Linked DNA regions of Homo sapiens. The protein of the gene in region 1 interacts with the protein of each later gene in a biochemical or structural test. Each region holds a gene or a part of one and is shown in the gene's direction. Other genes may lie near its edges.

What was found.
Region 2: the proteins of UBD (region 1) and MAD2L1 form a complex in vitro, tested with the Homo sapiens proteins (2 studies listed by BioGRID).
Region 3: the proteins of UBD (region 1) and HDAC6 form a complex in vitro, tested with the Homo sapiens proteins (2 studies listed by BioGRID, with this or other methods).
Region 4: the proteins of UBD (region 1) and NUB1 form a complex in vitro, tested with the Homo sapiens proteins (6 studies listed by BioGRID, with this or other methods).

Annotation. Positions count from the first base shown.
Region 1 is NC_000006.12:29,556,719-29,564,292, reverse strand, and holds the start of UBD (ubiquitin D), read left to right. Parts: upstream 1-4,560; 5' UTR 4,561-4,591; coding exon 4,592-4,618; intron 4,619-6,519; exon of another isoform or gene 6,520-7,574. UniProt on the Homo sapiens protein: Ubiquitin-like protein modifier which can be covalently attached to target proteins and subsequently leads to their degradation by the 26S proteasome, in a NUB1-dependent manner.
Region 2 is NC_000004.12:120,056,833-120,063,859, reverse strand, and holds part of MAD2L1 (mitotic spindle assembly checkpoint protein MAD2A), read left to right. Parts: intron 1-1,764; coding exon 1,765-1,885; intron 1,886-2,882; coding exon 2,883-2,986; intron 2,987-3,569; coding exon 3,570-3,742; 3' UTR 3,743-7,027. UniProt on the Homo sapiens protein: Component of the spindle-assembly checkpoint that prevents the onset of anaphase until all chromosomes are properly aligned at the metaphase plate.
Region 3 is NC_000023.11:48,819,043-48,825,479, forward strand, and holds the end of HDAC6 (protein deacetylase HDAC6), read left to right. Parts: intron 1-1,063; coding exon 1,064-1,213; intron 1,214-3,142; exon of another isoform or gene 3,143-3,221; intron 3,222-3,577; coding exon 3,578-3,752; intron 3,753-3,869; coding exon 3,870-4,546; intron 4,547-4,629; coding exon 4,630-4,743; intron 4,744-4,879; coding exon 4,880-5,026; intron 5,027-5,123; coding exon 5,124-5,252; intron 5,253-5,501; coding exon 5,502-5,570; 3' UTR 5,571-5,934; downstream 5,935-6,437.
Region 4 is NC_000007.14:151,344,792-151,351,818, forward strand, and holds part of NUB1 (NEDD8 ultimate buster 1), read left to right. Parts: intron 1-556; 5' UTR 557-558; coding exon 559-675; intron 676-4,281; coding exon 4,282-4,449; intron 4,450-6,632; coding exon 6,633-6,691; intron 6,692-7,027. UniProt on the Homo sapiens protein: Specific down-regulator of the NEDD8 conjugation system. Recruits NEDD8, UBD, and their conjugates to the proteasome for degradation. Isoform 1 promotes the degradation of NEDD8 more efficiently than isoform 2.

The DNA of each region.
Region 1 (7,574 bases):
AAGAGTACTAATAGGATAAGTTCCTAGAAGCAGAATTGCTGAGCTAGAGGATATGAACATGAAAAATTTTAAATTATATTTTTATTATAATCTTTGATACTACAGATAAATAAATGTAACCCATATAGAATAATATAATGTAACACTATAAAACATAATAGTAGCATAATGAACACTCATGGTTTTTACATTTTTATAAGAGCCTTATTGCTTACATATGTAGTTCTAGATACTATATTCAGTTTTGCTTATGTTTAGTTTTCTTTGGAACATTTGTTTTAGATATTATTACTTTACCTTTAATAAAGTGAATATACGGTATGTCTCTCAAGTAATAAATTGCTTTAACAAACATTAAGTTCTCTTGGTTAAACTTCAGATTCTGAATATGGCAAGATGAAATAATATCAGGGCTTCTAATGCCCTCTTACTTCCTGTTGAAAATCTCCTTCAAGTAGCTTATATCAAAATTTAGATTGGGCTTCATTTTTGTTAAAAAGCAGACATATCCTGAATTTCAAGTAGTTCCTCTTTTTCTCTGTCTCACTATGTAGTTTTGCTTGCTTTTGAGATTTATGGAGAGTATCATACTTTATGTAGTCTTACTCATCTTGCTTTTGTTAGATATAGTGAACTCCAAGATTCTCTTCAAAGAATCAGTATGTCAGCATATTCATCTCTCTTATTCTTTGATTCTCCATTTGAAAGTTGAGCTTCCGGGTTCTCTTCACCCTCTTGCCTCTAGTTTCAGTAAACAACTTTCCTGTCAGTTCTAATCAGTGGTTCATATCTGTTCCCCTGGTCACCTGCTCCATCCGGAGTCACCCTCGGCCACCTGCTTTGATTTGAATCATCCTGAGTCACCTGTTCTGTAACCACCCTTCCCACCAAACTACCCACCCTGCCGCTCTGGCTCATACCCCTGCTCTCTTTAAAATAGCCAATCGGAATTAGCTTAGATTGTGTGGTCCAAACCTAGCCAATAGGGGAACGACACAGCAGTAGGGGCTACCTGCCTCAGGAATAAGAACTCCTTCCCCTCCCTTGTCCAGGTATGCTCTTGCCATTACTCCATCCGCGAGTCACACCCTTCTATAGAAGTAAAAATTCCTTGCTGAGAAAATTGAATTTATGTCTGAGTGCTATTTCTTTGCGGCACCGTGGAATAAGCATTTGTTTCTAACACTTTTTTCACTCAATAGGTTCTAGCACATTCATCTGTATCGTTGTTTGCAGGTATGATCCTTCTATTTATGCTGCTTATGATATTCTACAATTTGGTTACCTATTTCCCTAATACTGATAGGCATTTGGTTGTCTTGGTTTGGTATGTCCATGTTAAATTTTGGTAGGTATTTTCAAACTGTTCTTCTTTGAGTGTAGACTTTTTTCCCAATCACCAATAAATGAGAATTCACACTAGCTTTCTGACTGAGTTTGGTTGGCATTTTTGAAGCAATATTCTAGATCTCAAAGCAGTTTAGAAACTCTTTCATGGACGTTATTAAAGAGACTAGAAAGAGACATCTGTTCCAAGTAGGCTTCAAGTAGGCTTCAATGGGGGCAGTGACAGGCCCAAGAGCATCCCGTCAGCCAGGGCCACATTGGGACACTCGTAGATAACCGCCACAATTGTTTTATAACTTGGCAAGATCTTCATACCATCATCTTTTTACTTTTGTTACTGGAAAGGGATCCTGATCCAGCCCCCAAGAGAGCGTTATTGGATCTTGCACAAGAAAGAATTCAGGGTGAATCCATAGAGTAAACTGAAAGCAAGCGTATTAAGAAAGTAAAGGAAAAAAAGAATGGCTACTTTATAGGCAGAGCAGCCCTGAGGGCTGCTGGTTGACTATTTTTATGGTTATTTCTTGATTATATACTAAACAAGGGGTGGCTTATTCACAAGTTTTCCAGGAAAGAAGTGGGAAATTCCTGGAACTGAGGGTTCCTCCTCTTTTTAGACCATATAGAGTAACTTCTGGACATTGCCATGGCATCTGTAAACTGCCATGGCCCTGGTGGGAATATTTTTTAGCATGTTAATGTTTTATTTAGCATATAATGAGCAGTGAGAATGACCAGAAGTCACTTTCGTTGCCATCTTGGTTTTGGTGGGTTTTGGCTGGCTTCTTTACTGCTTCCTTTTATTTGCAAGGTCTTTATAACCTGTACTTTGTGCTGATCTCCTCTCTCATCCTGTGACTTAGAATGCCTAACTTCCTGGGAATGCAGCCTAGTAGATGTCAGCCTTATTTTATCCAGCCCCTATTCAAGATGGAGTTGCTCTGGTTCAAACACCTCTGACACTTTAGTTGGTTTTCTGAATTTGTCAGAGGGGTAAATGATGTAGTTTGGATGTTTGTACTCTCCAGATCTCATGTTGAAATGTGACCCCCAGTGTTGGAAATGGGCCCACTGGGAGATGTTTGGGTTGTGGTGGCAGATCCCTCATGAATGGCCTGGGGCTGTCATCATTGTAATAAATGAGTTCTCACTCCATTAGCTCACAAGAGAGCTGGTTGTTTAAAAGAGCCTGGCATTTTTCCCACTGTCTCTTACCTCCCTCTCTTGCCATGTGACACGCCTGCTCTCCTTCACCTTCCACCATGAGTAAAAGCTTCTTGAGGCCTCACCAGAAGCAGATGCTGGTGCCATACTTCTTGTATAGTTGGAGGAACTATGAATCAATTAAACTTTTTTTCCTTATAAATTACCCAGCCTCAAGTATTCCTTTATAGTATGCAAAAGAGACTAAAACAGCAAATGAAAAGAGATCTGTCTCTGAAAGAACTTATTGTGACATAGAGAGAGACAGAAAAAAGTCAGATTGACACTGGGTAAGAAGCAAGGAGGTCAGGTCCCAAGATGAAGTCCTGCCTGTGGTCAGCAAAGGGGCACCAAGGTGTCTGGGACAGTCCTGGCCCTGGCTTTGGGCAGGGAGGGAATTTCCCATAGGAAGGGAAGAGTAAAGAGAGAGAGAGAGGTCAGAGTCCAGGTTTGTTGTTCATATGTTTTCTTGAAAGGGCACTATTTCCCAGAATCCAGGTCATCTCTGGGTAGGGAATCCCCTGAATTAGTTTTTTCTGAGAGTATATTAGATTTGCCCTCACAGTAACCCCATGCTGGAAATACCCAACTCCAGTAGCACTTTTCTCCCTGCCTTTTCCCACTGAAATAACATAATAATATAGGAAGAATACAAGGACTATAGAAATACAGATTAGTGTTTGAACCCTTGCTTACCAGCTACTACTAATATGATTGTGGATGAGGTAGCTTCTTACTTATTAACGGGGATACTAATAGAGGTGGTTCCTTACAATGATTCCATTTATGATTTTTTATTTAATAGTGATACCAAAGCAATACATACTCAGTAGAAACCTACTTCAAGTTCCCATAAAATCATCTGCTTTTCACTTTCAGTACAGTATTTAATAACTTAAATGAGATATTTCACACTTCAGTAGTAAATACACTTTTTGTTAGATAATTTTGTCCAACTGTATGCTAATGTAAGTGTTCTGAGCATGTTTAAGGCAGGTTAGGTTAAGCTATGATGTTTGGTGGGTTAGGTGTATTAAATGCATTTCTGATTTTGGATATTTTCAGTGTACAATGGGTTTACAGGGATGTAACCCCATCATAAGTGAAGGAGCACCTGTACTTACTTCATTAAAATGCTGAAACAGTAAATAAGGTAACATTTAATAATATGTTGTGCAGTTCTTGAAATTTAAGTACTCACCAAATATTACTTTTCCTTTTTTTGTTATTTACTTACTTTTCATTCATTTATTAATTCATTTGTGCATTTAGTAAACATTTATAAATTATTTCCTGTGCCTGACAGCATGCTGGAACAGTGCTAAAGATACAAGTTAATTAAGACACAATCACGACCCCCAAGATTCCTACTCTTTTCTAAAGATTACAGACAAGCAGACGATGCTATTGTTGAAGAAACATGCTCTGAGAGGCATTTGAAGGAAGTGTAGAGGATAGAAGATGGACACATAACCCAGGATGGGGAGGAAAAGAGTTAGGGAAGGCTTTTTGACGAAGATACTGTTTACACCGTGTGTTCTTATAAATTCATGGTGGTGGGGATAGAGTTGGAGGAAAAGGCATGCTCAGTGGCGTGGAGATGGCAGAGAGATTGGGGTGTTCAAGGATATGCCGGGAATTCAAGGAACGAGAATTCCCATAGACACAGACACAGCTAGACATAGAGATCTGCAGCTTAGGTTTGGGCTGTGGGTATAGATCCAGGTGGCTTCAACAGACAAAGATCTTTCCTGAGAAAAGGGAAAAGTTTTCAACACAGAAAGACCATCCCATGTTTGGAATGAGGTTTGCAAATAGATTGCTTGAGGAGAGAAGTATGTGATCAGAAAGCATTCTTTGTCTATTAACTCCTGCCCAGCAAAAGTGAAAGAAAATTCATGGGAGCATGCAAGAACAAAGAGCACAGCAAAGCTGGACAAACACAGCAATCCAGGCAGGGGATTTCCAACTCAACTCTGGTATATAAGCTGCATGCAAAGTCCTTTTTCTGTCTCTGGTTTCTGGCCCCTTGTCTGCAGAGATGGCTCCCAATGCTTCCTGCCTCTGTGTAAGTTGGGATTTGATAAAGGGGATGGGGAAAGGAAAAGCACTTTCAAGAGTTGGGGAGAGATCTTAGAAACGGGGGCTGGGCAGTACTCAGGGCTCTGGGGGGCTGGGCAGGCATCCTTCAGGAGAAGAGGCTGGCATTGACATTTGCAGAATGGGAAGAGGGATTGTCTGAAGAGAAGCTGGTTATCTGGCTTCTGTGTTCTTTTTTAAATAAAACATTGGACTAGCTACTCTTAGGGATAAATGGTAGAAGAAAAAGTGGGGGTGAGCTTTGTGTTCCACAGGGCTGGTGAGATTTGAAATTATGGTAACATTTTTTAAGGTTCTTAAACTTAATCTTCCCTCTCCTCTCAAAGGAGAGCTTCACAAAACTCATTCATCTGAAGTTGTTAATGATCTAACACATTACATTATATAAGAAAATATGCACTATGGAGAGAACCTGGAATTAAGGCAATGCTTAACACAGATCTTCCAGTGAAGAAATGTCTGCAATATCTAGATTGGGAAAATATTTCTGAATGGAGTATGAGGGAGGTCTTCTCAGGCTTTCAAGTGGCCATTAGGGGTGAGTTTTCCCATCTTTTAGGATTTTCCAGCTATTGAAGTAAGACTTAGATATAGTCCCTACCTTCTGTGAGTGAGGCCCTAGTCTTATCAAAGGAGATCACATTCTATATTAGTGTTACCAGGGGGTCTTTGCTCCCAGAGCTCTCAAGATGGTGGTGGGCTGCTTCCAAAATGGCCGCAGGCCGCTTCCAAGATGGTGGCAAGCCTCGTGTTCTCTGACCTGGGGTTCTTGGCCTCATGGATTCCAAGGAATGGAATCTTGGGTCATGTGGTGGTTGTTACAGCTCTATTAGAAGCCATGGGTCACGGAAGAGAACCGTGGACCCAGTGACTAGTGTTCAGCTCGATTAGGAAGAACCTGGGCACTTAGCCGTGCAGAACAATGGTACGCCTTTAGCCCAATCAGGAGCGGCAATGGGCGCCTCACTGGTTCAGAAGCACAGCGGACACCCTGCCAGATCCGAGGGATGGAAGTCAGCCGCGGGTCTGCGACGGTGGCAAACGGCAGTGGTGGATGGCAAGCGAAAGCTCACCTCGAGCCGTAAGAAACATAGACCAGAAGAGTGCAGTTGCAAGATTTAGTAGAGTGAAGACAGAGCTCCCATACAAAGGGAGGGGACCCAAAGAGGGTAGCGTTGCTGGCTCGAATGCCTGTGTTTATATCCCGATCATTGTCCCTCCCGCTGTGATCTCAGGCAATAGATGATTGGCTATATCTTTACCTCCTGTTTTTGCCTAATTAGCATTTTAGTGAGCTCTCTTTACTACCTGATTGGTCAGGTGTGAGCTAAGTTGCAAGCCCCGTGTTTAAAGGTGGATGCAGTCACCTCCCCAGCTAGGCTTAGGGATTCTTAGTCGGCCTAGGAAATCCAGCTAGTCCTGTCTCTCATTAGATAGAAATAAAAACACAAGAAATATAAATTAACAAGAAACACTGAACATAGTGTCACGGTAGTATGTGAGTTATTATTATAAAGCAGTGGGATATTTGAAAAGAAACTAACAGTTCAGTGATTATGTGTCCTACCCAGGATTTCCTTCTGAAGTATTGACAGAGGGTATCCTATGGCTATGAGTATCTTCATGAGGCTGTCATATTTTGGAAATTCTCTTTGAGAGTTGTTTTTAGAGTCTGATGTACATCTTTTGAAGCCTCGTATTTACTTGTTGACATTTGACAAACTTTATCTGGATAGGAGAGGCAGGTAAATAAGGTGGAAAATCACTAATTACATTTTGAGATGGATAAAGGTATGTTTTTTACATCCATTGAAATGCACAGAAAAACGAAATGTAAAGATTGTCAACTAAAAAAAATCACACAATTCATAAATTTAGAAGGGGAGTTTATTTCTTATGAAAGGTTATAGTCTGCAAGGTAGCCATTCTGACAGGCTGGGAAGTTTTGCTTCTGATTGAAAACCAAAAGCAAGCACTTTGCAGGAGGAAAGGTGACACAGGAATTTATGCTGAAGGGGTTTGCTAAGTATACATATCCAATAGGTTATAGCAGAGGCAATGAATATTCATGGAGGGGGTCCTAATGCATGCATATTGAATAAGCTTGCATGTTACATACCACCCATGGTCACTCTGAAGTGGAGACTTAACATTTAATTGCATTACAGTTAGGCCTTATACATGAAAAGGTGAAGCAGGGACACAAAGGCATTCAAATGCACAGCTTCTGTAAACTAGCCAGAACCAGTCCATGGTCAGTGGTCTCTTATCAGGAGAAAATTACTGAAATCAGTCTTTTGTCCAATTAAAACTGTAGTTATGGCTTGTGGAACACGGGGTCAGTTAGCCTGTGTTCCCCAACACAGGGTGAGCTGTAATTGTTTTAATATTGTTCCTGTCAAGGCCAGTGCTTGTTTAGCTGCTAGAGAAAAAAGAAAAAACTTTGTGGCAGAACATAGTTTATTCTTTAAGTGTAAGGGATGCATGACTTAACTTTTGCCTGTTATAGCCCTCGGTCTTGTTTATAATTTGCTATCTTATTGCCACAAAGAATCCATTCTCTCAGTCTTATAATCTCTAACTTTGCTGGTCAGTTGTGTCTAAACTGCAAAAGGGAGAAGATACAATGAGGCATATCCAACCTCCTGTTCCATCATGACTGAATGTTTTATTTATTTATATTTTTGAGACAGAGTCTCACTCTGTTGCCCTGGCTGGAGTGCAGTAGTGCCATCTCCACTCACTGCAACCTCTGCCTCCTGGATTCAAATGATTCTCCTGCCTCAGCCTCCTGAGTAGCTGGGATTACAGGGACTTGCCACCACTACTGGCTAATTTTTGTATTTTTAGTAGAGACAGAGTTTCACCAAGTTCACCAGGCTGGTCTCGAACTCCCAGCATCAATTGATCAGCCTGCCTCAGCT
Region 2 (7,027 bases), on another chromosome or scaffold:
TTTTATATTTTTACTAGAGACAGGGTTTCACCATCTTGGCCAGGCTGGTGTCGAACTCCTGACCTCGTGATCCACCCACCTCTGCCTCCCAAAGTGCTGGGATTACAGGCATGAGTGGCTGCTCATGTTTTGTTTTGCTGGCCAATTGTTTTGTTTTGAATGTAATTTCCTCTAGCCTTTTTCAGGGTCTTTATCCTGTTCTCTCTTATATTTTCTGCTTCTGTGTTTTGATTTTAATTATCCCCATTGGTTTCATCTCTCCAGTTTTAAAGGAAGAGCAAATTACCACCCAGTCTCCTTTTCAGAGTGAAACTAATAAAAAGTTGTTGATAAATGCCAGGGATCACAAGGCCCACAGGCCACATCCAACAAGTGGCCTGTTTTTGCACTGCCCACAAGCTAAGAGTGTTTTTACACTTACAGGTTTGTTTAAAAATAAGCAACAGAGATCTTGGTGGCCAATAAGCCTAAAATATTTAGTAATTACTCTGTTTCTTTACAAAAACTTCGCTGACTCCTGAATATGCTGTTTCAATTTCCAAGATTACTTCAAGGCTCAATCTGAGCCCCCGTTCTGTGTTTATAATTTCTCTATAGGTGATCTCTGACCTGTGTATAGCTTCACTAACAACCTCTGTGTAGTCAGCTCACAAACTTACATCTATCCCAAGCCTCTTTCTCCAGACTCATATATCCAGCAGCTATATCTTTATGTAGCTATCCCAGAGACAATGTACACTCAAGTATACTAAAAACTAAATTTAGGATCATCTCCAAGACTGATACTCTTTAATTCTCTTTTTTTCTCTCAATGAATGACTAAACCGTCCAGCCAGAAATAAAAGAAACTTGGAAGCTGTCCCTGAATCATGCTTCTTCCTTACTATCGTGACTAAACCCAATACGTTTTAACCATGAAATCTCTTAAATCTACCTATTGCTCCATATCTACCAGTTTATCCTCCTACAAGCTTTCATTAACTCTTGCTTGAATTACTGATTGACTAACTAGTGTCTCTAGATCCCCTCTTTAACATCTCCAGTCCACTTTCCGTATCACGGCTAGAATGATAGTTTTGAAATACAAGTCTAATTGCTTTACATCCTGTTCACACACAGTAATGACTTCCCTGGTCTTGAAGTATATATTTTTTTAATTTGATCCACCAGGCTTTGCATGGTCTGGCTCCTGTTAATCTTGCAAGGATTACTTTGTTTTATTTTGTTTGTTTGTTTCTTGATTGCACTTGTAGTGGGCTGCTTCCAGCCCTCTATATGCTCTTCCCTTGGCAGTATTTGAGGCCTGTATCTTCTTTCGTATCCTTTTGCATATTTAATGCTGTTTATCCCTAGAGCTAAACTCAGACCTTTTCTGACCTCCCTGAGTGGCTCAAATTTTCCTTTTTTTATGCTCTCATTGCATCTTACATCTTTCTTTCATAGCAGCCATTACAATGATAATTTCTCATTTATTGGTGTGATGAGTAGATTAATGCCCATCTCCTATGCTTTTATGTTGGATTAGGATGAAACTACCACATGTTCAGTATTCTGTCCTCAGCACCAATTACTGTACCTGATACAGATACTGAGAATTTGAAAACAGAAGTTAGATTATTGATGGTGCAAATTTTCTTGCACATAGGAGGAGGTCCCAGATAGCAGTGGTAGGAATTTGCTGAGGATAGGGAGTGGGACCCGAGAAGAGAGCTACTTTATGATGCAGTGGACCAAGAAAGATGCCTTCCTTTTTATATGTTGCAGATTGGTTATACAAGTGTTCAGTTCAGAAACTGGTTGTAGTTATCTCAAATATTGAAAGTGGTGAGGTCCTGGAAAGATGGCAGTTTGATATTGAGTGTGACAAGACTGCAAAAGATGACAGGTAAATAGGAATTACATTATTTCTACTTTGATATATTTTTTTTCAAAACTTGTTTTTATTACTAATTGAGTTCTAATTGTATTGAACTAGTTTTATATAAAATATAGTTTGTTTCTAATTTATATTTTCTAAGATATCCTCAGTCACCTATGGAAAAGAATTGTGCTCAGTTTAGCATATCATTGATTTGTATATATAATATAATTTTAACATAATTGCCTTTAGTCTAAATCAGTAGTTTTCAAACAGTATTTATGGTGATATATACAAAACTACACATGATATACTAGATGAACCATTTAATAATTGTTCTAAGATATTTTTAACTATAAGGAATGATATTAGACTCACACAATTTAAGATGTAGCTCTGCTGTACTTCCTTTAATGCCATCTACTTCCTAAGACACTTCATAAATTTCTGAAGGTTCCAGACTCCCTGGAAGAGAAATGCATTGTCCTAGGCATGCTCTTCTATAAACTGAGAACCATTTCTTATAGTGAAATGTAGTTTGCTTCTGAAGGCTTTGGTGTATTTTAGGAAATTTTTAGCTTATAAAATAATTTGATATACAATTTAATGTTTTATTTGAGAAAATAGGAAATTAGACATTTAGGCATTACTAAAAATGCTGAAATGATTATACCAATACATATTTTAGATATCACTTATTTTTATTTCAAGAGATGCTGAAGTTTCCTGAACTTGAAGTGATTGGCAAATTTTCTAGTCATCTGATACTAAATGACCTGACACTAAGACCAGCTCTAAAAGATGACTGGCAGGATAAATGAAGTAATAAGGATGAATGTTGTGCCTACTAGGTTGTAGGTCTGAAGGATACTTTCACTCACATTTTTTACAAACCTCCTTTCTCAAATAAGCCCTGCTTATTTGATGTTGAGAGCATTTAATCAGATAAATAATCTAACCACTATGTTTGAAATAATTTGTTAAGACCTGAAATGAATTAATTGATTTGATTTTTTTTTGACAGTGCACCCAGAGAAAAGTCTCAGAAAGCTATCCAGGATGAAATCCGTTCAGTGATCAGACAGATCACAGCTACGGTGACATTTCTGCCACTGTTGGAAGTTTCTTGTAAGTATTATACAACTTCTTGTTGAATTAAATTGATTGGCAAAAAGACTAAGCTACTGCCGTAATCACCCCTTTATTAAATTTTGTCTTATTTATCAGATTTATGTAATATAAATTGAAGGAAAAACATTATCATGCAAAAGTAATGTATCGTAGTCTCCCTTTCCACAGGGAGACCCACAGTGAATACCTGAAACCATGGATAGTATGAACCCTATATAATGTTTTTTTCTTATGCATACATACCTATGATAAAATTTAATATGTAAATTAAGCATAGTAAGAGTTAATAATAAACTGGAACAATTATAACAATATGCTGGCATCACTATTCTTGTGCTTTGGGACCATTATTAAATAAGATAAGGGTTACTTGAACACAATCACTAAATTGCACGGAAGTTAGATACAATATTTTCTTTACTGAAATAAATGTTCATTGAGCAAAATAAATTAACTAGTGATTGGAGACCAAGCCAAATGACCTTTTCCAGCAGTGAGTGGTTCAAAATAGAAGAGAGGCAGCAAGATTAGTTTTACTTTTAGAAAATAATATACTTCAATGATCTTATCCCCAATTTAGGTTCATTTGATCTGCTGATTTATACAGACAAAGATTTGGTTGTACCTGAAAAATGGGAAGAGTCGGGACCACAGTTTATTACCAATTCTGAGGAAGTCCGCCTTCGTTCATTTACTACTACAATCCACAAAGTAAATAGCATGGTGGCCTACAAAATTCCTGTCAATGACTGAGGATGACATGAGGAAAATAATGTAATTGTAATTTTGAAATGTGGTTTTCCTGAAATCAAGTCATCTATAGTTGATATGTTTTATTTCATTGGTTAATTTTTACATGGAGAAAACCAAAATGATACTTACTGAACTGTGTGTAATTGTTCCTTTTATTTTTTTGGTACCTATTTGACTTACCATGGAGTTAACATCATGAATTTATTGCACATTGTTCAAAAGGAACCAGGAGGTTTTTTTGTCAACATTGTGATGTATATTCCTTTGAAGATAGTAACTGTAGATGGAAAAACTTGTGCTATAAAGCTAGATGCTTTCCTAAATCAGATGTTTTGGTCAAGTAGTTTGACTCAGTATAGGTAGGGAGATATTTAAGTATAAAATACAACAAAGGAAGTCTAAATATTCAGAATCTTTGTTAAGGTCCTGAAAGTAACTCATAATCTATAAACAATGAAATATTGCTGTATAGCTCCTTTTGACCTTCATTTCATGTATAGTTTTCCCTATTGAATCAGTTTCCAATTATTTGACTTTAATTTATGTAACTTGAACCTATGAAGCAATGGATATTTGTACTGTTTAATGTTCTGTGATACAGAACTCTTAAAAATGTTTTTTCATGTGTTTTATAAAATCAAGTTTTAAGTGAAAGTGAGGAAATAAAGTTAAGTTTGTTTTAAATTTGTCTTAAAACATTTTGATACTGGTTTGGTGTTGATATAGTTAAATGGTAATTAGAATTGATTCAGCATAGCTAATGAATTCTTGTTCCTACGAAGTTATAGAACTTAAGGGTCCAAAGTTGAGTGAGTCTTGAGGTGTCTTCAATCTAATGGATAAACTTTGATCACATCCTGTTCATCTCATAGCAATAGACTTAAGGCTATTACTTCATCATTGTGAAAAGATAAATGTCCTTTGGAATTAGTCCAACAATTCCAGTTGAACAAGTGTTGATTTTAGTACTTTACTATACTCTTAGCCTTATTGTCAGCCTACTTTTCCTTATATACTTAAATACTATGCTTATTCCTGTGCTTTCATTAATACCCTCATCTGGTACATGCTTTCTATCCAGTTCTCACCTGTTTTTCCAAGGTCAGTTTAAGGCAGATTTGTAAAGTCTTCTCTAATCTCTAATCTAAATCTGACCTCATTTTGTAAAAATTCAGTTTATTAATGTTTATTATTAGACACTAAGTTCTTTATGTGTATTAACTTATTTAACCTTCACTATTTTTAAGTAATTGCACATAGTCTGAATCTGTTCATTCAGAAATTACATATTGAGCAAATACTGTGGATCAGTGGCAGTTTCTGGGTTCTCAGTGACAAATTTGTAGACTCTTCATATCTTTATGGAATAAGTGGACCACTGGTGTTACCAACCTAGATGATTTCAAGAAAAGTGGCAATTAAATGCTTCATTTGTATTTTAACTATTTGAGAAGTCAGACTAAATTCTGCGAAATCACTTTTCCCCCCCAAGATGGAGTCTTATTCTGTCGCCCAGGCTGGAGTACAGTGACGCAGCTCAGCTCACTACAGCCTCTGCCTCCCGGATTCCAGCCATTCTTCCGTCTCAGCCTCCTGAGTAGCTGGGATTACAGGCACGTGCCACCACACCTGGCTAATTTTTATATTTTTAGTAGAGAGAGGGTTTCACCATGTTGGCCAGGCTAGTCTTGAACTCCTGACCTCATGATCTGCCCGCCTTGACCTCACAAAGCATTGGGATTACAGGCGTGAGCCACTGCGCCCGGCTGAAATCACATTTTTAAAGGTTGTGTGTATACTCTGGTCATTTCAACTCAGCTACCAATATTAACAGGATTAAATTCTTAGATTTTTGTATCATTTGCATGCTACTATTTACTCTGAGGTTTCTGGAGAGCTAGTCATGATGAGTCATTTTACCCCTTACAGATTATATAATCAATTAAGAAATACACATTTTGGGCTGGGCGCAGTGGCTCGCGCCTGTAATCCCAGCACTTTGGGAGGCCGAGGCAGGTGGATCACGAGATCAGGAGTTTGAGACCAGCCTGGCCAAGATGGTCAAACCCCGTCTCTACTAAAAATATAAAAATTAGCTGGGCGTGGTGGCGGGCGCATCTCAGCTACTTGGGAGGCTGAGGCAGGAGAAATCGCTTGAACCCATGAGGTGGAGGTTGCGGTGAGCCAAGACCGTGCCACTGTACTCTAGCCTGGGCGACAGAGCAAGGCTCCATCTCAAAAAATAATAAATAAAAAAGAAATACACATTTTGGAGCTGAGTGGGAGCCAAACTATGAGTTTTATTGAGGTGAAGCTATACTGGAAAAGCTTTGCCCTGTAGCTCCAAGTGGACTGTCCCATCCTCTTTCTAGACCTTGAGGCTTACCTCAGGAGGATGATGTTTAAATCAACAGCTGAAAGACTTGTGAGTGGTTTCTACACCATGTTAAAGAGAAGGTTCTAAGACAGCATGATAGGCCTCTAGGCCTGGCCTGGACTCTGGCTCAGTGTTGCTTACCATATGTAGAGGATGAACAGAGGTTAAGCCCATCAAGGTCTGAAGTAGAGCCCAGGAGGAACTGAACTGTATCTGGCTTTCAGGATCCTTTTCCCAGTGTCATCAATCAGAGAAGTCAAACCTCTGTGAGAATGCTTGTGCAGAGGTATAACAGTCTCATGTATTGGTTGGCTTTTGCTGCACCTTTCTCATTCTGTTGGAGGGACATTGGTTAGTCAGGACTCTGAAGGCCAGCTTTTTCACACTGACCAAAGCAAGTGAAGGTCAAGCCTAACTTTAATGGGACCAGGAAGTATACTCCTCCCATGGAGGTGGTGGGAATGGCACCGAGAAGTTTGATGACAGTTATCTAATGGACTAGAGGTTGGCAAACTTTCTGTAAATGGCCAGGTAGTAAATAGTTCTGCTTTTGAAGGCATATGGTCTCTTGCACCTACTCGAGGCTGAAAGCAGCTATAGACAATACATAAATGAATGAGCGTGAGTGTGTTCCAATAAGAAAAAAACATGGCTGTTTGCTTCGGCCCCAGGGTTGTAGCTTACCAGTCCTGTAACAGATCACAGTTTGCTCTTTTGGTCACAAATACTTGAACCCCTCCCTAGTTCAGAGCATTTGATACCGTAATATTTAAAGCTCACTTGTAAAACATCGTTTGTTGCCTCCATCCATAGTATCTCAAACAGAATGTCTCTCCCAAATATACCTAAATTCCATATTCTCTGAAGCACAACCAGCTATTTTCTTGACATACTTCCTAACACACCCC
Region 3 (6,437 bases), on another chromosome or scaffold:
GCCGGTGTGCATCTTTGGATCTGCATGTGCATCTGACTGTGCATGGGTAGCCAGGACAGCCTTCTGTGTGTGTACAACTGTATGTGCAAATAACCAGCTCTTGTGGACATACCAGAGTGCATGTCGCCATTGTGGCTGTGTGGTGATGGCATGTGTATGTGACTGTGCAGGATGGCTGTGGGTTATTGTCCTCTTTGAGAAACTGTGTGTGTGTACATGACTAGTGCAGATATATAGTACTGATCTATATGGTACTGTCTGTGTGGCAGTACGTGTGGCTCTGTGTGACCATCTTCTCTGTATGTGGTTCTTGCGTTGCCATCTTCTGTTTTGGAAGTGTGCAAGCACCTCTCTTTGGCACTATGTATATAAAACCCTGTATCTTGTGTATGTGTGTCCCACGTTTGACCCTGGGGTATGTGTGTGTGAGGACATGTCTCTGTCTCTCTGTTTTTCATGTCACTCTCTTGACGTGTCAGTCTGTCTCATGTCCCCATCTGTCCCTTTTTTTTTTTTTTTGAAATGGAGTCTTGCTCTGTCACCCAGGCTAGAGTGCAGTGGTGCAATCTCGGCTCACTGCCAGCTCCGCCTCCTGGGTTCATGCCATTCTCCTGCCTCAGCCTCCTGCGTAGCTGGGACTACAGGCTCCCGCCACCACGTCTGGCTAATTTTTTGTATTTTTAGTAGAGACAGGGTTTCACTGTGTTAGCCAGGATGGTCTCAATCTGACCTCATGATCTGCCCGCCTCGGCCTCCCAAAGTGCTGGGATTACAGGCCTGAGCCACCATGCCCGGCCCCCATCTGTCCCTTTCTGCCATCTCCATGTCTCTAAGTCTGCATCTATTTCTTCTACCTCTGAGTCTGTATTTCTTTTCTTCCCTTCTTCATTTTCAGTCTCTGCTTTTGTGTCTCCTAGTCTCCAGGTTCTGTGTCTCCATCTCTCTGACTTGCATCTCCATGTCTTCATTTGTCCTTTTCTCCATGTCTCTGGGTCGCCATCACTTACTGCCTACCAAAAGCCCCTACCCTCATGCTTATACATCTCTTCTCTCCCTGCCTCAGTTTAACCCAGAACTGGTGCTGGTCTCAGCTGGCTTTGATGCTGCACGGGGGGATCCGCTGGGGGGCTGCCAGGTGTCACCTGAGGGTTATGCCCACCTCACCCACCTGCTGATGGGCCTTGCCAGTGGCCGCATTATCCTTATCCTAGAGGTAACTTTCTCTTGGTCCCTCTTCCCACAGTGGGAGGGTAGTTTGGAAATGTTGGCACCATCACTCAGGACAGTTTCCTGAAATCTCCTTTGAGTGTCCCTGCCTGGGATTGTTGGCACATACTGGGTAGTAATAAGAATAACAGCAACATTAACAGCCTTAATTGAGTGCTCACTATGTGCAGAGCACTCTTCTGAGCACCTCATGTGTCTTATTCATTCAGTTACTTGGCAAAGCAGCCTTATGAGGTAGGGTAAGCTTACCTCATTTTCCTCTCTGAAGATCAGGGAAACTGAGGCACAAAGAGGTGTGATGACTAGCCTGAGATGGCACATTTACTGATGGCAGAACCAGGACTTGAACCCATGCAGCCTGGCTCCAGGGTTTGTGCTTTTTACTCTACCTGAACTGCCTCTAACAAGTTCCTGGGACAAAGGAAATTCACTGACCTTTGTAAATGACTCAGTATCCCCACGCCCTGTGCCTCAGTTTCCTCATCTTTATGAGGCAGGCTAATCATGGAGGAATGCCTGGCATATGGTAAATGCTGGATCTTTTGGATCTGGTTTTTTGTTGTTGTTGTTGTTGTTGTTGTTTGTGAGACAAGAGTCTCGCTCTGTCACCCAGGCTAGTCTGCAGTGGCATGATCTCAGCTCACTGCAGCCTCCACCTCCCGGCTTCAAGTGATCCTCCCACCTCAGCCTCCTGAGTCGCTGGGATTACAGGCACCCGCCACCACGCCCAGCTAATTTTTGTATTTTTAGTAGAGATGGGGTTTCACCATGTTGGTCAGGCTGGTCTTGAGCTCCTGGCCTCAAGAAATCCACCCACCTTAGCCTCCCAGAGTGCTGGAATTACAGGCATGAGCCACCGCACCTGGCCCCTGGTTACTGTTATGCGTTGTTCAGATATTAACCCACTCAGCAACCTTCTGTGCTCTTATTTTCTTTTTCTTTTTCTTTTTTTTTTTGAGACGTTGTCTTGCTCTGTCGCCCAGGCTAGAGTGCAGTGGTGCGATTGTGGCTCACTGGGTTCAAGCAGTTCTCTGCCTCAGCCTCCTGAGTAGCTAGGATTACAGGTGCCTGCCACCACACCCAGCTAATTTTTTTGTATTTTTAGTAGAGACGGGGTTTCACCATGTTGGCCAGGCTGGTGTTGAACTCCTGACCTCGTGATCCACCTGCCTCAGCCTCCCAAAGTGTTGGGATTACAGGCATGAGCTACCATACCTGCCTCTTTTTTTTTTTTTTTTTTTTTTTCCTTTTGAGACAGAGTCTCGCCGTGTCACCCAGGCTGGAGTGCAATGGCGCTATCTCGGCTCACTGCAGCCTCTATCTCCCAGGCTCGAGCAAGCAATTCTCATGCCTCAGCCTCCCGAGTAGCTGGGACTACAGGCGCATGCCACCACGCCTGGCTAATTTTTGTATTTTTAGTAGAGACGGGGGTTTCACCATGTTGGCCAGGCTGGCCTCAAACTCCTGACCTCAGGTAACCTTCCCGCCTCGGCCTCCCAAAGTGCTGGGATTATAGGGGTGAGCCACCGCGCCCAGCCTGTGCTGTTATTTTCACCACTTTACAGATGAGGAAAATAAGTCACTGAGAAATTAATTGGCTTGCAAAAAGTCGCACTTACTATGTGCCCAGTACTGCTTGTGACAGGACACGGTGGGAGTTAAGAACACAGATGACTCCATCAGAGAGCCCAAGTTCAAACCCCAGTGCTGCCTCTTCAGCTGTTATGACCTCGGACAAGTCATCTAACCACTCTGAGCCTCAGTTTCTTTATCTGTAAAAAGAATAGCAACTGGGATTCCTGTAGAGTGTAAAAAAAGTCAATACAGGAGTCCATGTGGAGAAAGAGTCCAGTTGTTCCTGTACTAGGTCAGGGCAGGGGCTTTTGTATGGGTTCACAGCAGTCGTCTTGTGCAGGTCAGGTCAGTGGTTACTGTATGATGTGAGGCCAGGGGTTCCTGGACAGTGTGAAGACGGATTTCTGTATGGCATGAAGGCAAGTTCCTGTATAGATTGAGCGCCTGTGGTTGTGAGGATTGAGTTAATATGCATGAAGTACTTAAAATCGGGTCTGGCACACAGCAAACAATAAATGTCAGCTGTTACTAATGCTTTTATCAGTATTGTTATCTTGCACTTTACATCACAATTTACTCCCCACAACAACCACCTTACACAGTGGGTGCTGCCTATCTTAAAGGTGTGGGTTCTGTTCACTTGTTCTCAGTACTCCCCCTCCCTCTCCAGACTTGCAGGGCTCAGTAGGGAGGATTGGGGAGGCAGGACATGTTGTCCTCCAAATTCCCCAATGAACCCCCACCATACCTTTCCCTCCCCTTTTCCTTAACAAAGGGTGGCTATAACCTGACATCCATCTCAGAGTCCATGGCTGCCTGCACTCGCTCCCTCCTTGGAGACCCACCACCCCTGCTGACCCTGCCACGGCCCCCACTATCAGGGGCCCTGGCCTCAATCACTGAGACCATCCAAGTCCATCGCAGATACTGGCGCAGCTTACGGGTCATGAGTGAGTGGATTTGGGGGTGATGGGGGGAACCCAGGGAAGGAGGGGGCTGAGGGGCAGAGATCAGAGGCAGGAAGGGTGACAGTACCCACACTCAAGGATCTCCCTCCCTGGTTCCAGAGGTAGAAGACAGAGAAGGACCCTCCAGTTCTAAGTTGGTCACCAAGAAGGCACCCCAACCAGCCAAACCTAGGTTAGCTGAGCGGATGACCACACGAGAAAAGAAGGTTCTGGAAGCAGGCATGGGGAAAGTCACCTCGGCATCATTTGGGGAAGAGTCCACTCCAGGCCAGACTAACTCAGAGACAGCTGTGGTGGCCCTCACTCAGGACCAGCCCTCAGAGGCAGCCACAGGGGGAGCCACTCTGGCCCAGACCATTTCTGAGGCAGCCATTGGGGGAGCCATGCTGGGCCAGACCACCTCAGAGGAGGCTGTCGGGGGAGCCACTCCGGACCAGACCACCTCAGAGGAGACTGTGGGAGGAGCCATTCTGGACCAGACCACCTCAGAGGATGCTGTTGGGGGAGCCACGCTGGGCCAGACTACCTCAGAGGAGGCTGTAGGAGGAGCTACACTGGCCCAGACCACCTCGGAGGCAGCCATGGAGGGAGCCACACTGGACCAGACTACGTCAGAGGAGGCTCCAGGGGGCACCGAGCTGATCCAAACTCCTCTAGCCTCGAGCACAGACCACCAGACCCCCCCAACCTCACCTGTGCAGGGAACTACACCCCAGATATCTCCCAGTACACTGATTGGGAGTCTCAGGACCTTGGAGCTAGGCAGCGAATCTCAGGTAAGGCTCACCACACCCAGGTAGGGGCAAGAAGGGGCAAGAATCGGGCTTCTCTGATACATCTCTTACTTCTGCGTGTCCAGGGGGCCTCAGAATCTCAGGCCCCAGGAGAGGAGAACCTACTAGGAGAGGCAGCTGGAGGTCAGGACATGGCTGATTCGATGCTGATGCAGGGATCTAGGGGCCTCACTGATCAGGTGAGCTCAGGGAGAGGCTGGGACTGTGGCTTCCTTCTCTTGCCAATTTGTGTCTCCAGGTAGGAGCATGTGATGAATAAACATATAATGGGGAGATGGGGTCTTCAGCTTACCTAGTTTCACCCACCCACTCCAGGCCATATTTTATGCTGTGACACCACTGCCCTGGTGTCCCCATTTGGTGGCAGTATGCCCCATACCTGCAGCAGGCCTAGACGTGACCCAACCTTGTGGGGACTGTGGAACAATCCAAGAGAATTGGGTGTGTCTCTCTTGCTATCAGGTATGGAGCAGAGGAAGGGGATGGGGCGGAGGTTGGCCCGGGAGCAAACTGCAGGGGGATGCTGACCCCCACCTGACACTCACACCCCCAACCTCAGGTCTACTGTGGTCGTTACATCAATGGCCACATGCTCCAACACCATGGAAATTCTGGACACCCGCTGGTCCTCAGCTACATCGACCTGTCAGCCTGGTGTTACTACTGTCAGGCCTATGTCCACCACCAGGTGGGCCCTGGGTAGACCCTTCGACACGTGCACACTCACCCCCCACACACACACCCCTTCTGTGATTGGGTAAAGGGAGACCACAGGCCCCTCTGCATGGCTGCCTCATGTGATTATTTTGCATGGGGCGGGGGCTGTGGGATAGTCCAGAAGACAGAGTGGTTGAGGGCTGGAGTGGGGGCAGCCCTGCAGCCGAGGTAGAGGGGTCCTCACTCTCTCTCACCTGCCCTATTCTTGCCTCCTCCTCAGGCTCTCCTAGATGTGAAGAACATCGCCCACCAGAACAAGTTTGGGGAGGATATGCCCCACCCACACTAAGCCCCAGAATACGGTCCCTCTTCACCTTCTGAGGCCCACGATAGACCAGCTGTAGCTCATTCCAGCCTGTACCTTGGATGAGGGGTAGCCTCCCACTGCATCCCATCCTGAATATCCTTTGCAACTCCCCAAGAGTGCTTATTTAAGTGTTAATACTTTTAAGAGAACTGCGACGATTAATTGTGGATCTCCCCCTGCCCATTGCCTGCTTGAGGGGCACCACTACTCCAGCCCAGAAGGAAAGGGGGGCAGCTCAGTGGCCCCAAGAGGGAGCTGATATCATGAGGATAACATTGGCGGGAGGGGAGTTAACTGGCAGGCATGGCAAGGTTGCATATGTAATAAAGTACAAGCTGTTAAAAAACCTGGAGAAAGCTTTTTGACTTTGAGCAGGTGGAGAACCCCACATCCCTGGCCAGCAGAGCCGATGAGTAATGAAGGAATGAGGGAGTGGGTCTCTGTCAGGTCAATCCCCTGCCCATCCATTGCCCCCAAAAAACTAACTGAAAATAGAGCAGCCATCTTGACTGGCTCCACGGGATATAAAATGGTAGAATCCATGAGAAAATGGGTGCTTGCCTTATAAATAGGAGCCTCACAGCCAGTCCCAGCCACACCCACACCCTAGGCTGAGAAGGCAAGAAAACTAGCAGGAAGTATCCTTACCAGGCCTGTTTCCCCACTGTCTCATTGGCCTGACTGGGGATGGTGGGAGGTCCAGGTTTAACTTGAATGTGGTGGTCATGGTAGCTTCTTGGCAGAAGGGGTGCCTGCCATTGACCACAGGTGGGAAATTGGAGGACAGTCTGAGAGCTGAATTTCTCCCACGTGGTGAGAATTGCTTTGGCAGCTCAAGGGAGTTGGATC
Region 4 (7,027 bases), on another chromosome or scaffold:
GAATTCGAGACCAGCCTGGCCAACATGGCGAAACCCCGTCTCTACTAAAAATATGAAAATTAGCCGGGCGTGGTGGCGCATGCCTGTAATCCCAGTGAGTAGGGAGGCTGATGCAGGGGAATTGCTTGAACCCAGGGGGCGGAGCTTGCAGTGAGCCGAGATCGCACCACTGCACTCCAGCCTGGGCGACAGAGCGAGACTCCGTCTCAAAAAAGAAAAAAAGAAGTTCACGACTCGAGGGATTTATCTTTCTCTTATTTTCTCTTTTCTCTTAGATAAGAGAATAGCAGATTAAGAAATAGAAACATGTAATAATCCTTGCTACATATTAGCAACTTTGAAATACATATTTTATATATGTAATATATATAATTGAACATATATTTCTATATATATTTTTAGAGAAGTCTGGAGCTCATTTAAACCATAGTAATTTATATTTAATGACAGAGGAAGGGAGCTTTGCTTACCCAACAAAGCACCTTAACATGTAGGTAAGTTATTAACATTTTAAAATGCGATGTGGAGTTTTATTAATGTATTGTTTTGCTTTCAGGGATGGCACAAAAGAAATATCTTCAAGCAAAATTGACCCAGTTTTTAAGGGAAGACAGGATTCAACTTTGGAAACCTCCATATACAGATGAAAATAAAAAAGTTGGTTTGGCATTAAAGGTATTTTTCTTTTAAGACATCAATAATTAGCAGCATTATAAATCTCCTTGGTAAATAAGATTCTGAATTGTCAGGCATGACCATATAAACTTTTGGCATAACCAAAAGCATTAGTGGTGAGCGGGTACCCACTTTTTACTAGGAACTGACAACCTTATTTTTGTTCATTAATATTTTATTCACATGAGGATGTTATCTAATTTTTCAGGCATATATTTTTAATACCATCACAGGATTACATAACATTATTTATCTGGAACTCATTTTGACCCATTAGTGGAACAGTATTGGTGCCAGTAAGTAATTGCATTGTGTGTTCAAAGTGACAGTGTCTTGGCTCATTCTCGGTCCTCCTTGCTATCATCATCTGCTGTGAAACAATTGCTCCTTTTTCCCCCAGTTTTTTTGATGCTCTCACTATCAGTGTTCATTTTTCCAAAATAGGTTTTTTCTAACAGTTGTATCTCAGTTTTTCATGGCATCATCAGAAATGATATTGTATGTAAGTGATGTTTCTAGAAACTGAAGTCTGCTTGCTTTTCTAAGCAGAGAAACAGTACTCATTTTTGCCAGAAATCTATCATACTGGAATTTCCTAGCATGTACTTCTCTGCTCTCATTCAGAGTATCCTGAACATGATGTAACATTTATCAGGGACTAAGGATTGTCATGAGGCATTAAATTGCTCTGTGTTGTGACATAATGATGTGCTTGGGAGGTGACAAACTGTATTAGGGTCCTAGTTCTTCTGTTTCTTCTGTTCCAGGCAGGCCTCACTTTTTCTTTGCAACCCACCTTCTGACCTTGCTTCTGAATTTATTGTTACAGTCTCTTGGTTTAGAAACTAGGTGTGGCATAAAGGAAAAATATTTGACCTTTGTCCCTGGTTCCTGGCAGAGCCAAAACTCTTGGGATTTCCTAAGTGGTAAGCATGATAGGAGCAACCTTTGTGCTCATGAGGCTTGGTTGCCCCTAGATAGCTTCAGGATGGGGCTGGTCACCAAAAGTACCAAGCCGTGATTAGACACTTGAAACTTTCCACCCTCCCCTCCAACCTCTGGGAAGGGGAGATTGAGCTGATGACTAATACTAATGGTCAGTGATTTAATCAGGCCTGCATAATGAAACTTCCATACAAACCCCTAAGTGACAGATTTTGGACAGCTTCCAAATTGGTGAACACATCCACATGTCGGGATGTACACCCCCAACTCCATGGGACAGAGGCTTCTATGCTCAGGACCCTTCCAGACCTTGCCTTAGTACCTCTTCATGTGAATGGTTATTTGTATCCTTTGTAATGAACTATATTCATAAGTATACCATTTTCTGGAGTTCTGTGAGTTGTTCTAGCAAATCATGGAACCTGAAGGGGGTGCTTGTGTGAACCCTCGACTTTGTAGCTAAGTCAGACAAAAGTATGGGTAACCTGGGGACCAGATACTTGGTAACTGGTATCTGAAGTTAGGGCTTTTTTGTGGGCTGAGCCCTTAAACCTGTGGAGTCTAACGCTAACTCTGGGTAGTTAGTGTCAGAATTGAATCGTAGGACTTCCAGTTGGTGTCAGAATTGGCTGGTGACAGGAGGAAGAAAGAAATCCTCACTAGTTAGGTTTTCTAGAAAATTATAGAAAGTTTTTAAAAAAGTATTTATAATATATATTCTAGGTTTTAAAAAGTATGTATATAAATACAAAAATATAAAGAATGTATTTTTAAAATATGTTAAACATCGTTAACATAGGTATATTCTTCCTCTTTTCCTACGTAACTATTAAAAAAATGTATTGCTGGACACAGTGGCGCATGCCTGTAGTCCCAGCTACTCAGGAGGCTAAGGCAGGAGGATCACTTGAACCCGGGAGTTGGAGACTGTAGTATGCTATGGTCCCACCTGTGAATAGCCACTGCACTCCAGCCTGGGCAACGTAGTGAGACCCCGTCTCTAAAAGAAAAAAAAAGTATATATAGGTTTATGTTACTTACAAAATTTTTTTTCCTTTTTTTTTGAGACAAGGTCTTGATCTGTTGCCCAGGCTGGAGTGCAATGGCATGGCCATAGTTCATTGCAGCCTCACACTCCTGGGCTCAAGTGATTCTCCCACCTCAGCCTTGGGAGTAGCTGGGACTACAGGTGCATGCCACCATGCCTGGCTAATATATTTTTAGTTTTTGTAGAGACGGGGTTTCACTTTGTTGCCCAGGTTGGTCTTGAAGTCCTGGGCTTGAGCAATCCTCTCACCTTGCCTTCCAAAGTGCTGGGATTACAGGCATGAGCCATCGCGCCCAATCTATACTCATATCTATAAAGTTTTCCAACTTCACTTTTATCATGAACATCTCTTCTGTCATAAATTTATGCTTACACCATAATTTTTACGTACTACATGGTATTACATTATGAATTTAATGAAACCTTGACCTTTAGGGTTTTTTGAAGTGTTTACTGTTTTATGAGATGTTTAATGAAACATTAACCTCACATGCAGATACAGATTGAGAGGAGTATCCCGTAACTGAAATATTTGGGACTGGAAGTGTGTTTGGATTTTGGAATGTTTGCTTTATACCTACTAGTTGGGCATCCTAATCTGAAAATTCAAAATTCAAAATACTTCAGTGTGCATTTCCTTTGAGCATCTCCAGATGCTGAATTTTGGCGATTTCAGATTTTTAGATTAGAGATACTCATCTGGATTTTTTTGGGGAGGAACCATAATGACTTTGCTCTCAGTAATAACTGGTTCCCATCCTTTCTTGAGCCCTTTCAATCTTCTTTTTTTTCTCAATTCTAAAGCTCTCCCTTACAAATAGTTTTACAACTAGTACCCATGATTCACAGATTTTCATTAAGAGAATTGTTTAAGTCCAACTTGATTTGTTCTCACAAGTTTGAAAAATTGGAATATTTTCTGGGTTTTTTTTTCATTTTCCCTTCCAGTGGAGTTGAACAGTTCATTATACTTTTTAAATAGATCACAGTCACATAAGTCATAGCCCACCCTTTTCTTCTCCTTAGAAGATTCTCTATTATTATTATTATTTTACTATTTGTAGGTAGAAAACATTTATCAAATAAATGTTTTTGTTTTTTGCTTTTTGCTTTTTTTTTTTTTTTTTTTTTTTTGAGGCGGAGTCTTGCTCTGTCACCCAGGGTGGAGTACAGTGGCACAATCTTGGCTCACTGCAGCCTCTGCCTCCTGGGTTCAAGCGATTCTCCTGCCTCAGCCCCCCAAGTAGCTGGGCCTACAGGCACACGCCACCATGCCCAGCTAATTTTTGTATTTAAGTAGTTATGGGGTTTCACCATGTTGGCCAGGCTGGTCCCAAACTCATCACCTCAAGTGATGCGCCTGCCTCGGCCTCCCAAAGTGCTGGGATTACAGGCATGAGCCACCGCGCCCAGTCTCAAATAAGTGTTTTCACTTTTTCCTGGCCTCTCTAAACTCCACACCTCTCAAGATGTCAAACCACAGTGTGGACTGCAGTGTAACGGGGCGACCTCCACTCATCAGAGTTGATGGCCTTAGAGTCTTTCATGCCCTTTTCTATATTTTGCCTTTTTTTTTTTAAGTCAGTATTGCATTTTCTGATTTTTCTTGATAGGACCTTGCTAAGCAGTACTCTGACAGACTAGAATGCTGTGAAAATGAAGTAGAAAAGGTAATAGAAGAAATACGTTGCAAGGCAATTGAGCGTGGAACAGGAAATGACAATTATAGAACAACGGGAATTGCTACAATCGAGGTGTTTTTACCACCAAGACTAAAAAAAGTGAGTAATTTCCCTAAATTTGAGTAGGCACTAATGTCCAGTTAGTGATGAGGTCAAATAAATTGTTGTTGTTTGGAAAGTTACAATCCAAAGTCAGAATTCTTTTAAGTGACTTTACATATTGAACAATTTATCAGCTTGAAAGTCAATGTTACAAATTCTTAAACTGGAACATTCCCAAGGTAGGCTTTTAGAGACCCTCTTGGGCTTCTAAAATGCCACAGAGCTGTATGTCACATTCTGATCCTTTCTAGCGTGTGAACGTTGAGAAATAATGGGGAATAAAGGATTCCCAAGTTTCCTAGAAGCCTGTGCAGGAGGACACAGCACAGAAGGCTTCATCCTTTTCCTGTTCCAGTAGAGGTCAGAGGGCAGTCCGCTGAGTGCTCTCAAGCAGGGCCGAGGAGATCTGGGTGGGGTCACCTCCTCTCATTGCCATGGCCAGGTAGTTTGCATCTAGAAATGTCACTGTGGCAAGGCACCCAGAGCCTCTTGGGACTGATCGATGCCAGCACTCTCAGAAGAAATAAGAGCATAGGCTCCAGCCCTACTGGGTCTGTGGTTTTTCTCCTCATGTGCGGAGACAAGAGATCGTAGAAATAAACACACAAGACAAAGAGATAGAAGAAAAGACAGTTGGGCCCGGAGGACCACTACCACCTAGACGCGGAAACCGGTAGTGGCCCCGAATGCCTGGCTGTGCTGTTATTTATTGGATACAAGGCAGAAGGGGCAGGGTAAGGACTGTGAGTCATCTCCAATGATTGATAAGGTCACAGGAGTCATGTGTCCACCGGACAGGGGGCCTTTCCCTTGTAGGTAGACGAGGCGGAGAGAGAGGACAGCTTACGTCATTATTTCTTCTATGCTCTTCTCAGAAAGATCAAAGACGTTAATACTTTCACTTTCTGCTGCTGCTATCTAGAAGGCGGAGCCAGGTGTACAGAGCGGAACATGAAAGTGAAACAGGAGCGGGACCACTGAAGCACAGCGTCACAGGGAGACGTTTAGGCCTCTGGATGGCTGTGGGCGGGCCTGACTAATGTCAGGCCTTCCACAAGAGGTGGTGGAGCAGAGTCTTCTCTAACTACCCCAGGGAGAGGCTCCCTTTCCCAGTCTGCTAAGTAACAGGTGCCTTCCCAGGCACTGGCGCTACCGCTAGACCAAGGTCTGCTAAGTAACGAGGGCCTTTCCGGGCACTGGAGTTACCGCTAGACGAGGGAGCCCTCTAGTGGCCCTGTTCGGGCATAACAGAGGGCTCACACTTGTCTTCTGGTCACTTCTCACTGTGTCCCTTCAGCTCCTATCTCTGTGTGGCCTGGTTTTTCCTAGGTTATAATTGTAGAACAAAGATTATTGTAATATTGAAATAAAGAGTAATACTACAAACTAATAATGATATTCATATATAATCATATCTATAATCTATTTCTAGTGTAACTATTCTTATTCTATATATTTTCTTTATTATACTGGAACAATTTGTGCCCTCGGTCTCTTGCCTTGGCACCTGGGTGGCTTGCCGCCCACATATATATTAATATGTAAAACCTCATACATGAATGGTCATAGCAACACTATTCAGTAGCTGAGAGATGGAAATAGTCCAAATGTCCATCAACAGATGAAGGGATAGATAAATGTGGTCTATTCATACGATGGAAAACTGTTCACAATGCAAAGGAATGAAGTGCTGATGCGTCCACAACGTGGGTGCACCTGAAAACATGATGCTCAGGGAAGAAGCCAGACACAAAAGGCCACGTACTGCACTATCCCATTTATATGAAATGTCCGGAATAGGCAAATCTGTAGCAGCAGAAAATGGATTAGTGGTTGCCAGGGGCTGGGGGGCAAAGGGGAGGGAATGGGGTGCAGGCCATGGTGTTTCTTTGAGGGATGGTGGAAATGTTCTGAAATGTTAAAGACGTCCAGCTGTGTGAGACGGCCCCTCTGAGCAGCCCTGCCTGGTGGTGCCACGCTGCCGCCCCCTTGAGGACGTGCAGGTCACAGGGTCAGCCTGTGCTGGGTTATGTTCAGTAGACTTCTAGGCAGGCAGCATTTTAGTTTTTAACAGTGAACTCAGTTTATATCCTCTGCCGTCAGCTTTTCTGATTTCACAGGGTAATCTCTCCAAAATGGGTTAAATTCAAGTACGTTTTACTTTGTCTTATTTTTAACAGGATAGGAAAAACTTGTTGGAGACCCGATTGCACATCACTGGCAGAGAACTGAGGTCCAAGTAAGTATCTGTGTGCTCTGTGTCCTAGGTGCTCTGGGCCTTTTTACATTGGCTTATTTGATCCTCTGTGAGCGTCCTCTTAAGATAGGTAGGGCAGGTATTATCTTCATTTTATAAAAGAGAAAATTGAGGCTTTGAGGTTGAAGGACTTATTAGAGCTGTCACTGGTAGGTAAGTGGCAAAGTGAGGACTCAAGACTTGCAAGCACTATTTCCTGGTGTAACTTCCGAGCAGGTGGGAACTCCATGCCTATCATATGGTAGGCACTTGGTGCATGTTTGAGTGAATGAGTGAGTGATACAAGCAGGAGACACCTGGTACTCACTAGCTCATTAG